2 linked regions of the Homo sapiens genome follow. The protein of the gene in region 1 purifies or fractionates together with the protein of each later gene. This does not show direct contact. Each region holds a gene or a part of one and is shown in the gene's direction. Other genes may lie near its edges.

Region 1 (7,069 bases):
ATATATCCTTATATAGCAAGACCCTATCTCTTAAAAAAAAAATCATTTGGCCGGCTACTGTGGCTCATGGCTGTAATCCTAGCACTTTGGGAGGTTGAGGTGGGTGGATCACTTGAGCCCGAGAGTTCGAGATCAGCCTGGGCAACATAGTAAGACCCCTGTATCTACAAGAAATAGAAGAAAAATTAGCTGAATACCCTGTAGTCCCAGCTACTCAGGAGGCTGATGCAGGAAGATTGCTTGAGCCCAGGAAGTTGGTGGCTGCAGTGAGCTGTGGTTGCGCCACTGCACTCTAGTCTGGGTGACAGAGATCTCATCTCAAAAAGGAAAAAAAAAAAATCAAGTAAAATAAAACGTAGAACTGAAAGAAAAAACAAACCTGGCTGGGCATAGTGGCTCATGCCTGTCATCCCAGCACTTTGGGAGGCTGAGGCAGGCGGATCACTTGAGGTCAGGAGTTTGACACCAGCCTGTCCAACATGGTGAAACCCCATCTCTACTAAAAATACAAAAAAAAATTAGCCAGGTCTGATGGTGCATGCCTTTAATCCTAGCTACTCGGGATGCTTAGGTGGGAGTATTGCTTGAACCTCAGGGGCAGAGGTTGCAGTGAGCCGAAATCGCGCCACTGCGCACTCTAGCCTGGGCGACAGAGTGAGACTCCTTTTAAAAAAAAAAAAACATGCAAACCTCCAAAAATTTTTTCAGTACATTTATTGACAAGAAAAAATCTACATCAAGCTTGTCCTGTCTGTGGCCTATGGGCTGCATGTGGTCCAGGGTAGCTTTGAATGCAGCCCAACAGAAATTTGTTAACTTTCTTAAAACATGAGATTTTTTTTCACAATTTTTTTAAAGCTCATTAGCTATCGTTAGTGTATTTTATGTGTGGCCCAAGGCAATTCTTTTTCTTCCAACGTGGCCCAGGGAAGCCAAAAAATTGGACACCTCTGATCTACATAAAAAGTGGCAGTTCAGATGTGTTATTCAAGGGACAACTGTAAATACAGAAAGGCATATCCCATGGTGATCCATTGCTGTGGGGGAAAGAGGAAGGAGGGAGTGTGAGAAGGACGCTTTAAATAAAGTGATCTGGGAAGGCATCAGCATAGATAAATAGTAGTTGTAAAAAATTATCTACCTAGTAGGGACTAGGTGCAGTGGCTCACACCTGTGATTCCACACTTTAGGAGCCTGGGAGTTTGAGACCAGCCTGGGCAACATGGCGAGACCTTGTTTCTATGGAAAAAAAAAAAACACAGTAGGAAACACGTTATTGATTTGAACTTTTTCAATTAGGAGTTTTTCAGAATGAGCACTGGGTGTTTGAAGTATTTGTAATACAATTATATCTGGTTCTCATGCTGTTAACAGCTAGTCATTGAGATCACTATTTGGCGCCATGCATAGCAACATGGAATTAAGGGATGGAAAAACAGCCAGGACGTCTCTACTGTGCTGTGTAAAACAGGAGTGGCACTGATTTCTATCCCTCTCTGGGTAAGGATCAGGTAATGGAGGAAAATAAAGGAGAGGAAAGAGAAGGAAACATGATAGATTTTTATTTTGATTAAAACAAAAGTTGGTAACAGCAACTCAGGTTTCTATTAAATAAACAAAAGTTGGGAGATACTCCAAAATAACTGTTAGTAATAGCTTTAAGTTCTGACAGGCTGTGCCGACCGGAATATGATACCTAAGTTTTAAGTGCATTGAAATAGTGATTCATGTTTCCTTTTGCCTGTCTTATACCCAGCTCTTACAACTACACTTGTGTCTTAAGTATAGTGCTGATGTGGTAATAGGATATTTCTATTCAGCCTTATGCCTTTACTGTGTGTACATTCTGTCCATTTAAAAGGCTGAATTGTAAATCTTAATTTTAAAAAATTAAATGTAGTCAGTTGTCATTAATAGCCTCATGTTTCTTTTTTTTTTTTGAGACGGAGTCTCACTCTTGTTGCCCAGGCTGGAGTACAATGGTGCAATCTCGGCTCAGTGCAATCTCTGACTCCTGGGTTTATCAAGCGATTCTCCTGCTCCAGCCTTCCAAGTAGTTGGGATTACAGGCGTGCGCCACCACACCCAGCTAATTTTGTATTTTTAGTAGAGATGGGGTTTCACCATGTTGGTCAGGCTGGTCTTGAACTCCTGACCTCAAGCGATCCACCCTCCTCAGCCTTCCAAAGTGCTGGGATTATAGGCGTGAGCCACTACGACCTGACCAGCCTCATGGTTTTAATTTTCAGTTTTGTTGGCTGGAAAATGATCTTGGATGTAATATTAAATCTATCAAAACATTAAGCTGTCAATAGAAACATTTGAGAGTTTGTTTTTAAAACTGTAGTTGTATTTTAAAAATAGCTGTACAGCTTAGGAATGGGGGGAGAAGGGAGATAAAATCAGAAAATTTTCTTTTTTGTTGGCTATTTGTCTATCATCTATGATTAGTTGAAATACAGCCTAGTAATAAAAGCTGAGGATTTATAAAGTGGTAATTTGTAGCTTCTTCATCTGTTTTTTAGTGTAAAATGCAGCGAATTGGTTGCTTATGTAGGACTTCAGTAAAATAAGTGACTAGCAGCAGTAGCAGCAGCATCGAAATTTTATCGAGGTCAATTTGTTCTTGTTATCTTAAGCTGTTATCATTAAGTGCCCGGTTGTATCTTAGCATACAGAGGCGGAAAAGCAAGAGCATTCAGAATTTAGGCAATTGGCTGAGTGTAGATCAGAGTTGTCAAAGGGAGACTCTTCAGATGGGTGGCTTCATGGATACTTGTTCAGAGTCACATTTACCTTGTACCTAGTAAGAAACATAATTTGACATTTTTCATTCAGTTAAGTAGTAGTTTTAATTACTTGTAATTGTATGGTAGAATTGAAGACTTTATAAGTAACCTGTTATAATCGTGTCAGTTTAAGGTGTTGTGAAACTGGAAGCCATGCTGTCCAAACTCCCATATCTTAAATTGCATCCTGCATTTTAGGCGCGGTGGCTCATGCCTGTAATCTCAGCACTTTGGGAGGCCGTGGTGGGCGGATCACCTGAGGTCAGGAGTTTGAGACCAGCCTAACATGGTGAAACCTTGTTTCTACCAAAAGTACAAAAATTAGCTGGGCGTAATGGCGGTTGCCTATAATCCCAGCTACTCGGGAGGCTGAGACAGGAGAATCGCTTGAACACGGGAGGCAGAGGTTGCAGTGAGCTGAGATTGCGTCATTGCACTCCAGTCTAGGCGACAGAGCAAGACTCTGTCTCAAAAAAAAAAAAAAAAAAAAAAATTGCATCCTGCATTCCGCAGTTGATAACAAGGCATGTTTAAACTTTGCTCTCATACTTCGTTCTCCTCAATGTCTGATTGTGAGTGTGCTTTTTGAAAAATTCTTTTTTATTTAGGCCTAATGGGATTGTTTGAAAAACGTCGCTTCAGGAAATTCCTAGTGTATGTTGCCAACTTCGATGAAAAAGATCCAAGAACTTTTGAAGGCATTGATCCTAAGAAGACCACAATGCGAGATGTGTATAAGAAATTTGATTTGGGTCAAGACGTTATAGATTTTACTGGTCATGCTCTTGCACTTTACAGAACTGATGAGTAAGTATTTTGGTTTTTAGATTTGTATTTTTCTTGAAATTCTCACTAAATTTCCCAAGTCTTCCAAGTGGAAATTCTAACAAAACAAATACTTAGCCATATTGCACTATGAATGAAGAGGTTCTAGTTGAAATTAGTGTTGGGACCTTTTAAGTGATTTAAATATAAAGGTAGTGGGCCAGGTGTGGTGGCTCACGCCTGTGATCCCAGCACTTTGGGAGGCCAAGTTGGGTGGATCATTTGAGGTCAGGAGTTCAAGACCAGCCTGGCCAACATGGTGAAACCCCCTCTCTACTAAAAATGCAAAAATTAGTTGGGCGGTAGTGGTGCGTCCCTGTAATTCCAGCCACTTGGGAGGCTGAGGCAGAAGAATCACTTGAGCCTGGGAGGTGGAAGTTGTGGGGAGCCGAGATTGCACCACTGCACTCCAGTCTGGGCGACAGAGTGAGACCCTGTCTCAAAAAACAAAAAAACAAAAAAGAAGATAGCGGATTGAAATCGCTTCAAAAAAAATTATAAATTGAACACCATGAATGAAAACTAAAGCCCTTTCCTAATACTCATTTCCTTTCTTCCAGTTACTTAGATCAACCGTGTTATGAAACCATTAATAGAATTAAACTTTACAGTGAATCTTTGGCAAGATATGGCAAAAGCCCATACCTTTATCCACTCTATGGCCTTGGAGAACTGCCCCAAGGATTTGCAAGGTAAGAGCCTGTGTTTAAAACCTCAGTGATCCAAAACCTCATCTTCAACATAATGTGTATATGAGATATAGTTTAAATAATGAGATGAGATCAGTCTATGAGTAATAAGATGCTTTTTATTTTTATTGAAATAAAATTAACATATAATGATATGCATGGATCTTCAGTTAAAAAAAATCCAGTTTTATACAACTGTAGCTGATGTGCTCTTGTAAGTGCCAACTCCTGGCTGGAGGCCAGCCAATACAAAACCAGCGCACTTAACAAAAATACAACCAAGGACCTTCACAGAATCTACTTCACACCCCTGTTACCTCCACCAGAGTAAGTGCTGGTATCCACGCCTGAGAGACCTGGAGACAGATCACATCACAGGACTCTTTGCAGACACTCTCCAGTACCAGCTTAGAGCCTGATTATCTCCACTGGGCGGCTAGATCAAGAAGAGAAATAACAATCACTGCAGTTTGGCTCTCAGGAAGCCCCATCCCTAGGGGAAAGGGGAGAGCACCACATCAAGGGAGCATCCCTGTGGGACAAAAGAATCTGAACAGCAGCCCTTGAGTTCCAGATCTTCCCTCTGACATAGTCTATCCAGATGAGAAGGAACTGGAAAAACAACTGGGGTAATATGACAAAACAGGGTTCTTTGACACTCTGAAAAGGTCACACTAGCTTACCAGCAATGGATCTAAACCAAGACAAAAATCTCTGAATTGCCAGAAAAAGAATTCACAAGGTCATTATTACGCCAATCAAGGAGGCACGAGAGAAAGGTGAAGTCCAACTTAGCAAAACAAAAAAAGTGATACAGGATATGAATGGAAAAATTTCCAGGAAAATAGCATAAATAAATAATCACAACTTCTGAAAATCAAGGGACACACTTAGAGACATGCAAAATGCACTGGAAAGTCTCAGCAATAGAATTGAATAAGTAGAAGAAAGAAATTTCAGAGTTCGAAGACAAGGCTTTTGAATTAGCCCAATCTGACAAAGACAAAAAAGAATTTAAAAAAATGAACGCAGCCTCCAATAAGTTTGTTAAACAACCAAGCCTAAGAATAATTGGTGTTCCCAAGGAAGAAGAAGAATCTAAAAGTTTGGAAAACAAATTTGAGGGATTAATTGAGGAAAACTTCCCCGGCCTTGCTAGAGATCTAGACATCCAAATACAAGAAGCTTAAAGAACACCTGGGAAATTCATCACAAAAAGATCATCACCTAGGCACATAGTCATCAGGTTAACTAAAGTCAAGATGAAGGAAAGAATCTTAAGAGCTGTGAGTCAAAAGCCTCAGGTAACCTATAAAGGAAAACCTATCAGATTAACAGATTTCTCAGCAGAAACTCTAAAAGCTAGAAGGGATTGGGATCCTATCTTGAGCCTCCTTAAGTTATCAGCCAGTAATTTTGTATCCAGTGAAACAGAGCTTCATAAATGAAGGAAAGTAGTCTTTTTCACACAAACAAGTGCTGAGAGAATTTGCCACTACCAAGCCAGCACTACAAGAACTGCTAAAAGGAGCTCCAAATCTTGAAACAAATTCTCAAAATACCAAAATTGTATCTCCTTAAAGCATAAATCACACAGGACCTATAAAACAATAACACAATGAAGAAAAAAAACAAGGTGTTCAGGCAAACAAATAGCACGATGAATAGAATAGTACCTCAAATCTCAATACTAATGTTGAATGTAAATGGCCTACATGCTCCACTTTAAAGATACAGAATAGCAGAATGGATAAGAACTCATCAACCAAGTATCTGCTGTCTTCAAGAGATTCACCAGACACAAAAGGACTCAAATTTAAGGTAAAGGGGTGGAAAAATATATTTCATGTAAATGGACACCAGAAGCGAGCAGAAGTAGCTATTCTTATATTTTTTATTTTATAACTATATATATTTTAAAAAAAATCAGTTTGATAAATTTATAGACCTATCCCTGTCCTGGGTTTAACTAAAACCTGAGTGAAGGTATAGAACATTTTCCTCACCCCATAAAGTTCCCTTGTGTCACCTCATAATGAATACTGCCCCCCATCCCCAGCAACCACCTCTGTGATTTCTGTCACTATAGATTACTTTTGCTTGTTTTCAAAGTTCATGTAAAAGGAATAATACAATATGTTCTCATTTGTGTCTTTTTCATTTTTTGAGATTCATCCATATTGATGCATGTGTCAGTAATTCTTTTTTTTGGAGATGGAGTTCCACTCTTGTTGCCCAGGCTGGAGTGCTGTGGTGCAGTCTCAGCTCACTGCAACCTCCACCCCCTGGGTTCCAGTGATTCTCCTGCCTCAGCCTCCCAAGGAGCTGGGATTACAGGCATGCACCACCACATCCGGCTAATTTTTTATATTTAGTAGTGATGGGGTTTCACCATGTTGGTCAGTCTGGTCTTGAACTCCTGACCTCAAGTGATCCACCCACCTTGGCCTCCCAATGTGCTGGGATTACAGGTGTGAGCCATTGTGCCTGGCCAATTCTTTTTTTTTAATTGTTGAGTAGAATTCCTTTGTATGAATTATATGAGCATATAATTCTCCTTTTGGTGGACATCTAGTTAGTTTTCAGTTTTTGGCTATTATGAATGAAGGCACTGTGAAATTTTTATGTAAAACACTTTCTGTGGGGATATAGGTTTTCATTTCCTTTTGGGTAAATACTGGGAGTGAAATTGCTGACTAATGTGGCAGATAGAAGTCTGAATTCATAAGAAACTGTAAAACAGTGTTCTGGAGTGGTTGTGTCATT
Region 2 (7,668 bases), on another chromosome or scaffold:
GAGTTATTCACTTGAGCTAGAAATGTAACTACTTCTAAAAACCTAAACATAAAATATATATTAAAATTTGAGCTGGGCGCAGGAGCTCACGCCTGTAATCCCAGCACTTTGGAAGGCTGAGACGGGCTGACCACCTGAGGTCAGGTGTTCGAGACCAGCCTGGCCAACATGGTGAAAGCCCGTCTGGTCTCTACTAAAAATACAATAAATTAGCTGGATGTGGTGGTGCGCACCTGTAATCCTAGCCACTCGGGAGGTTGAAGCCAGGGAACAGCTTGAACCCGGGAGAGGGGAGGTTGCAGTGAGCTGAGATCGTGCCACTGCACTCCAGCCTGGGAGACAGAGTGAGACTCCATCTCAAAACAACAACAACAACAACAACAAAAAAACACACACGAAAATATATATATTAAAGTTTGAGTCAGCAAAACTTTTAAAAAGTTTAATTTTTAGCCACTTTAAATTTGGAAAGGAAGTCTTAATGTAATTGCACATAAATTTCAGTGGGGGTAGAAAACACCCACCTACCATTCCCAGGCTAAGCTGCCTCTGACCTCTTCGCATAATATTCTACAACACGGAAGCTAAGCTATGAGGCTTTCTGTCCTTGGTACACAGCAGGTACACTTAAGACTTTCAGAGAAGCTGAGAGAAGTAGATGTTGGGGACCAGGACATACCACCTCAAATATCACTCTGGGGGACCAGAATATGCTCTCCTAAAATATTCTTCTTTGGTGGCATATTTTGAGCTGGTTATTCTAAGAAACTGTAGACACAGGAGTAGCTCTGAAAAGCTGTCCTTTTGTAAAATAAGTTTATGTCTACAAAGGAAATCTACATTAGTAACGTATCTATATCAGAGAGAGGGCTGCCTCAAGATAACTTTTATTACCTGAGAGACTTTTTATCTGCATGGCAGGACAATCTTTCTTTACCATGCATTTCCCCTCTTGCCCTCCTGTAGCTTATCATTACCTCTCCGAAGGCCCCAAGCCCCAGTTTTGTTTTTTTTTTTGAGATGGAGTCTTGCTCTGTCACCTAGGCTGGAGTACAGTGGTGTGATCTCAGTTTACTGCAACCTCTACCTCCCGGGTTGAAGATATTCTCCTGCCTCAGCTACCTGAGTAGCTAGGATTACAGGTACCCGCCACCATGCCTGGCTAATTTTTTCAATTTTTTTTTTTTTGAGATTGAGTCTCGCTCTGTTGCCCAGGCTGGAGTGCTGTGGCACAGTTTCGGCTCACTGCAATCTCCGCCTCCCAGGTTCAAGCGATTCTCCTGCCTCAGCCTCCCGAGCAGCTGGGATCACAGGTATGTGCCACCATGCCCAGCTGATTTTTGTATTTTTAGTAGAGACGGGTTTTCACCATATTGGTCAGGCTGGTCTTGAACTCCTCAAATGATCCACCTGCCTTGGCCTCCCAAAGTGCTGGGATTACAGGCGTGAGCCACTGTGCCTGCCCAATTTTTTGTGTTTTTAGTAGAGACAGGGTTTCGCCAGGTTGGCCAGGCTGGTCTCGAACTCTTGACCTCTAGTGATCCACCCACCTTGGCTTCTCAAAGAGCTGGGATCACAGCCGTAAGCCGTAAGCCACCGCGCCCGGCACCAAGCCCTATTCTTTTTTTTTTTTGAGATGGACTCTCGCTCTGTAGCCCAGGCTGGAGTGCAGTGGTGCCATCTCAGCTGACTGCAAGCTCCGCCTCCCGGATTCACGCCATTCTTCTGTCTCAGCCTCCCGAGTAGCTGGGACTACAGGCAGCCGCCACCACGCCCAGGTAATTTTGTTTTTGCATTTTTAGTAGAGACTGGGTTTCACCGTGTTAGCCAGGATGATCTTGATGTCCTGACCTCGTGATCCACCCGCCTTGGCCTCCCAAAGTGCTGGGATTAGAGGCGTGAGCTACTGCACCCGGCCACCAAGCCGTATTCTTTTCTGTAGCTCAGGATGCTTCAATCATCAGACCCTTCTTGGAGTCTCTTATTTTGAGGAACTCCCATGCATATGTACTTAATCAAATATGATTTTCTCCTGTTAATCTGTCTTAGGTTAATTTAGTTCATAAACTAGCCAAGGAACCTAGCAGGGTGGAGGGAAGTCATTTTTTTGCTCTCCTACAGAGAAAAGTAATTAACATTTACCAAGGGTCCCAAAGCCATTGTACTATATGCTTTACATTGTGTTTATTCAACGCTTACAGCTATCCTGTCACTTAGATTAAAAGCTACTAGGAGGTAATTTTTTTTTTTTTGGTGGTTGTTGTTGAGACTGAGTCTCGCTCTGTTGCCAGGCTGGAGTGCAGTGGCGCGATCTCGGCTCACTACAACCTCTGACTCCCTGGTTCAAGCCATTCTCCTGCCTCAGCCTCCCGAGTAGCTGAGATTCTGTAATCTCACGTGCCACACGCCACCACGCCCAGCTAATTTTTGTATTTTTAGCAGAGACGGGGTTTCACCATGTTGGCCAGGATGGTCTCGATCTCCTGACCTCATAATCTGCCCGCCTTGGCCTCCCAAAGTGTTGGGATTACAGGCGTGAGCCACTGCGCCTGGCAGGGGGTAATTCTTTGTTGGGAAAGAAAATAGTTAATTAAAGGAAGTTTGGGAGTATACTTCCCAGGGGAGGACAGATTGTATTTTTGGCTGAGGACGAGTTCTGGACAGTTTTCTGAGGGTTTTTTGGGGGTGTGTGTGTGTGTGTGTGTGTGTGTGTGCCTTTACTAGTGACTCAGGTCACAGTTTTCTGAGATTTTTTTTCTCCCCTCAAGACAGAATCTTGCTCTGTCGCCCAGGCTGGAGTGCAGTGGCCTCTCGGCCCACTGTAGCCTCCGCCTCCCGGGTTCAAGCAATTTTCCTGCCTCAGCCTCCCGAGTAGCTGGGATTACAGGCACGCGCCACCATGCCTGGCTAATTTTTGTATTTTTAGTAGAGACAGTGTTTCACCATGTTGGCCAGGCTGGTCTTGAATTCCTGACCTCGTGATCTGTCCGTTTTGGCCTCTCAAATTCCTGAGATTACAGGCATGAGCCACCGAGCCTGGCCAGTTTTCTGAGTTTTTATTTGAAATCAAAATAAGCTTTTTTTTTTTTTAATGGGCTTTAGAGTCCAGGGTAACGAACACTTTTTGGTGCCTATTACTGAACCATTCAGGGTATTCCTGGGGTGGTGACCGTGTTCATTTCAGAAACCAACATGTTCATTTCAGAAACCAAACTCGGGTAACTTTTGATAAGTTCATCAACTAAGGCCCATGGCAGAATTTGAGGGCTAAGGGGTGTAATTAGTGTATGGGTAGAAATAAGTGCCTTCTTTCTATATTTTGGCGTTGTAGGAATTTAAAGTGATTCTGCAGTAAGTCTCAGGAGACAATTTTCTTAGTTCTTAGAAGTTGGAAGATAAACTTTGGACAATGTATTACACTATGCCCTTTGTAATTAAATAACTCAAGATAATGTGTTAAAGTTTAGCGGAGATTTAAATTCCTGAGCTGATTAAAGAGAGCTGTTAAGGCCATAGGTTTTTTAAAAATGAGTTAATATTACTCCCAGAAATTGTAGGCACTATATAGTGATGAATTGCCTATTTTTATTGCTTATTATTTTCCAGTCTTGCAGAATGGCTCAGGGTTAGTAGCAACTAAAAGATAATACATTACAATTCAACCTGAAGGCCGGGACGAAGGTAGGAATTGGATTTTAGGCTGGCTCTGGGCTGTGTCCCTCCCATCCATGGGATGTGGAGCCATTGAAGGTTGTGGGGTCACGATGCAGGTGCTGTCTCAGAAAGATACATCCGACTGTGTGTGCAAATGGGCTGGGGCGGAGAGGAGAGAGAGAGGTAGAGTCCATTTGGAGACTACTGCAATAGCCAGGCTGACGAGTTAAGAGCGGGGCACAGTAAGAATGGGAAGAAATCTAAGAAGAAAATGGTAGTGCGCGGGGCCAACAATGGACGATGACCGAACCCAGGTGGGGATGGGTGAGTGACGAGAAGAACCGCTCCGTGCCGTCCAGGGAGCCCCTTGACTTCCCTTCTGTTCTTAGAGCGGACGTCCTCCTACCAGCCCCCAACCAGCGCCACCAGGGTGGCGCAAGCCTCAAGCTGGTCAGGTCAGCAACAGCCGCAACGGAGGCAGGAGCCGACACGCTCGTACCCCGGCCCCCTCCCCGCCCCCGCACCCCCGGCAGTCCCTCCGGTTTGACCACTCCCCCCGGTCCCTTGCCTCCCCCGACCCCCAGCCTCCGTCGGCCGCCGGCACCACCCTCCGCCCCTCTCCGCCCCCTCCCCCGTGGGGCGCTGACTCGCCCGGCTGCCACGTCTCACTGATGACATCACTAGGGCAGCTCGGCCTTAGCCAATCCGCCAGGGGGAGTCCGAGCGAAGTCCTAGCCAGCGAGTCAGAGGGGAGGGGAGCAGGGAGGGGCCGAGGGTGGGGAGGTGAGGGAGTGGGGAATGGGGCGGGCGACAACCCTTCAGGTACGCATGCCCCAGAGGCGCGGCGCTTGGCGGGAAGCTGAGTCCTGGCCTTGCGTCGCACTGTCTGTCCTCAGCTCGCGTAGCCGCGCTCGCGACTCCCTTTCCCGGCATGCCAGGCGGTGCGGCCGCCCTCTGGGCCGTGTAAAGGCCCCTCGGTCTAAGGCTTCCCTATTTCCTGGTTCGCCGGCGGCCATTTTGGGTGGAAGCGATAGCTGAGTGGCGGCGGCTGCTGATTGTGTTCTAGGGGACGGAGTAGGGGAAGACGTTTGCTCTCCCGGAACAGCCTATCTCATTCCTTTCTTTCGATTACCCGTGGCGCGGAGAGTCAGGGCGGCGGCTGCGGCAGCAAGGGCGGCGGTGGCGGCGGCGGCAGCTGCAGTGACATGTCCAGCATGAATCCCGAATAGTGAGTTCAGGAGAGCACCGGTCGGCTGGGTCCGTGGGCCAGCTTGGGGGATCTTAAAGGGGTCGAGGAGGGTTGGGGCAGAAGTCGGGGCATCGGCTGGGGTGAGGCGAGGGTGATGGGTCAGGAGAGGCTGGCGGCCGGGAGTCGGGCCCCATTGTCTGACGCGGAGGGGCGGCCGCGCGGGGGAGGGGTCGGGCCGGAGGGGTGAGCCGCCCGGGCCTGGACCGGGTCAGGTTAGAGGGCCTGACTGCGGGGCGGGTGCTGAGGAAGCCTGCCGAGGGGCCTGGGGCGGTGTGAAGGGGTATCTTCTCTCGGAGGCAGTGACTTTTGAAGGAGGACTTGTCTCTAAGGGGAGGGGATGGGGTGGGAGAGCCCTTCTAGAGGGCACTGTCAGACCCTGCGCCCGCACTCTGCGGAGCTGTCAGGATCTTCGGGGTAGAAACCAGCTTTACTTGTAAATCCTGAGCTTGTTGGCTCTCTCTCCTTCCATCCTCCCCGCCAGGTTTCAGGTAATATGGATGCTTTTCGGGACTGCGTGGGATTGAGGGGAATGAGTAGATGGTGAGAAGCAACTGAACATTTATTAGTTCTCTTTTTGAGTTGTGTCTTGGAGGAGTTGTTTAAGAGCTCGCCGGGTCCATTGCCCTCCTATAAAAACCTGGGCATTTGTGAGAATTTTGTTTTTTTTTTTTTTAAAGAGGACACCTAAGTCATTTTGTCTTCTGTGGGTCAAGGGAAAAAAAAAAAACTAAAGCCAAGAAATGTCTTTTTGATACTCGCAGATTAAAGGAAGCTTGCTGTCAAGTTGAAAGAGAAACGAACGGGACCTATGATAGATCTGTATGTAGGTTTTGGATTACCTGCTTGGATGCTTGCAGATAGGGAATGAGGTTCCATGACGTGTCATGAAAAGTTAATGCATTTCTTTTTCTTGCTTACTCAAGAAGTCACCACAGCAGATGTGACACACCTGGCACCTTTCCTGGGAACTGGTGTTCACTTCCCTTGGGTAGAGTTTGTTGGGCTCTCCTCAATGGCCCTTTAAAAATTTCCTCTACAGTTTACATGCATGTAAAGTAATGAATAATTGGAAGAGACCGAATTGGTATTCCTTTTCAGTGTCAAAGGCCTTTGAGGGATGGGGGAACATCAGTATTTGTTGTAAAAGTTGAGTTTATTTGCTGGTTTGGTCAATTACTGCTAGACATTTTCCCCTAAAAGGTCCACCCACCAGTTTAGCTGACTGTCATATGTGTGTCACATGGCTCTTGCAAAATGCTTACAAGTTTTGTAATAGTGTGGCTTGAAGCTGAAATCTTTTGCACTAAACAGAAACCGTAGTATTTTATTAGAATTTCATGTTTTAGAAGTTGAGGGTAGTGTTCTTGTAGTGACATTTGCTGTGTTGACAGTTTAAAAAAAATTTTTTTTCAAGGGCTCCAAGGACAAAGTTGGTTTTGCACAGTTGAACGGAGGTGAACTTGAGGTTCTTAATTTAGTAGTTTTCTTGGTAACAATAAAGAACATGGATTTACTGCTTTATCGAGGTTTATAGACCTCTACTGTTCAGGAAATTTTCTGAATTTGCTATATATATGTTTATTAGTGTAAATAAATCTTCAAGATTAGTTGAGAACTTTGACAAGTTACTCAGCCTCTGAATTTTTTTTCCCTTTTGTAAAATAGGATAATTGGAGTCATTATTCCTGTCAGGGTAGTGGTGAAATTCAAATGTATATAAAAGAATTTGAAAAACCGTGTGAGCATTCTTCAGGTGGTATGCATCATTTTCATGAAAGGCATTCTATTAGTACCAGGATTTAGGAATATAATCCTTGCGCTTAAGAAGTTTAGATATAGGCCAGGCGCGGTGGCTCACCTCAGTAATCCCAGCACTTTGGGAGGCCGAGGCGGGCGGATCCCGAGGTCAGGAGATCGAGACCATCCTCGGTAACACGGTGAAACCCCGTCTCTACTAAAAATGCAAAAAAATTAGCCGGGCGTGGTGGTGGGCACCTGTAGTCCCAGCTACTCGAGAGGCTGAGGCAGGAGAATGGCGTGATCCCGGGAGGTGGAGCTTGCAGTGAACCAAGATCTGGCCACTGCACTCCAGCCTGGACGACAGAGCAAGACTCCGTCTCAAAAAAAAAATTATTTATTGTTTTGAGACGGAGTTTCAATCTTGTTGCCCAGGCTGGAGTGCAATGGCGCAAATCTCCTCTCACCGCCACCTCCGCCTCCTGGGTTCAAGTGATTCTCCTGCCTCAGATTCCCGAGAAGTTGGGATTACAGGCATGTGCCACCACTCCCGGCTAATTTTGTATTTTTGGTAGAGACGGGGTTTCTCCATGTTGGTCAGGCTGGTCTCAAACTCCCGAAGTGATCCGCCCGCCTCAGCTTCCCAAAGTGTTGGGATTACAGGCGTGAGCCACCGCGCCCGGCAGAAATAGATTTTATACATGTCAAATACCAGTAGATATAGCAAATTCCAGATGTGTGGCATGGATGAGAGCAACAAGATTTCAGGGGGATGGTGGGTTGTGGTTGGCTATCTGGGTTTTGGAAGACTTTATAGAAGAGAGACCTGAAAGGGATTTATCAGCAATTAGATTTGGAGGAACAGAGGGAGTGACTAGGAATTTTCAAGGGGGAGAAGAAGGAGGAATGGCTCATAAATGACAAGGACAGTAATTAATAAGTAAATACGGTGTCAAATCATCCTTTCTTTTGAAGACTAATGACCTCAAAGGGATCAAACCCAGAAACAGTTTTTATATTTTTTCTGG

What was found. Proteins that work in one complex are often made in the same cells at the same time.
Region 2: the proteins of GDI2 (region 1) and RAB1A purify together in Homo sapiens (affinity purification with mass spectrometry; 7 studies listed by BioGRID and IntAct, with this or other methods). This does not show direct contact.

The regions. Positions count from the first base shown.
Region 1 is NC_000010.11:5,782,379-5,789,447, reverse strand, and holds part of GDI2 (rab GDP dissociation inhibitor beta), read left to right. Parts: intron 1-3,397; coding exon 3,398-3,596; intron 3,597-4,174; coding exon 4,175-4,306; intron 4,307-7,069. UniProt on the Homo sapiens protein: GDP-dissociation inhibitor preventing the GDP to GTP exchange of most Rab proteins. By keeping these small GTPases in their inactive GDP-bound form regulates intracellular membrane trafficking.
Region 2 is NC_000002.12:65,127,107-65,134,774, reverse strand, and holds the start of RAB1A (ras-related protein Rab-1A), read left to right. Parts: upstream 1-4,668; 5' UTR 4,669-4,859; coding exon 4,860-4,882; intron 4,883-7,668. UniProt on the Homo sapiens protein: The small GTPases Rab are key regulators of intracellular membrane trafficking, from the formation of transport vesicles to their fusion with membranes.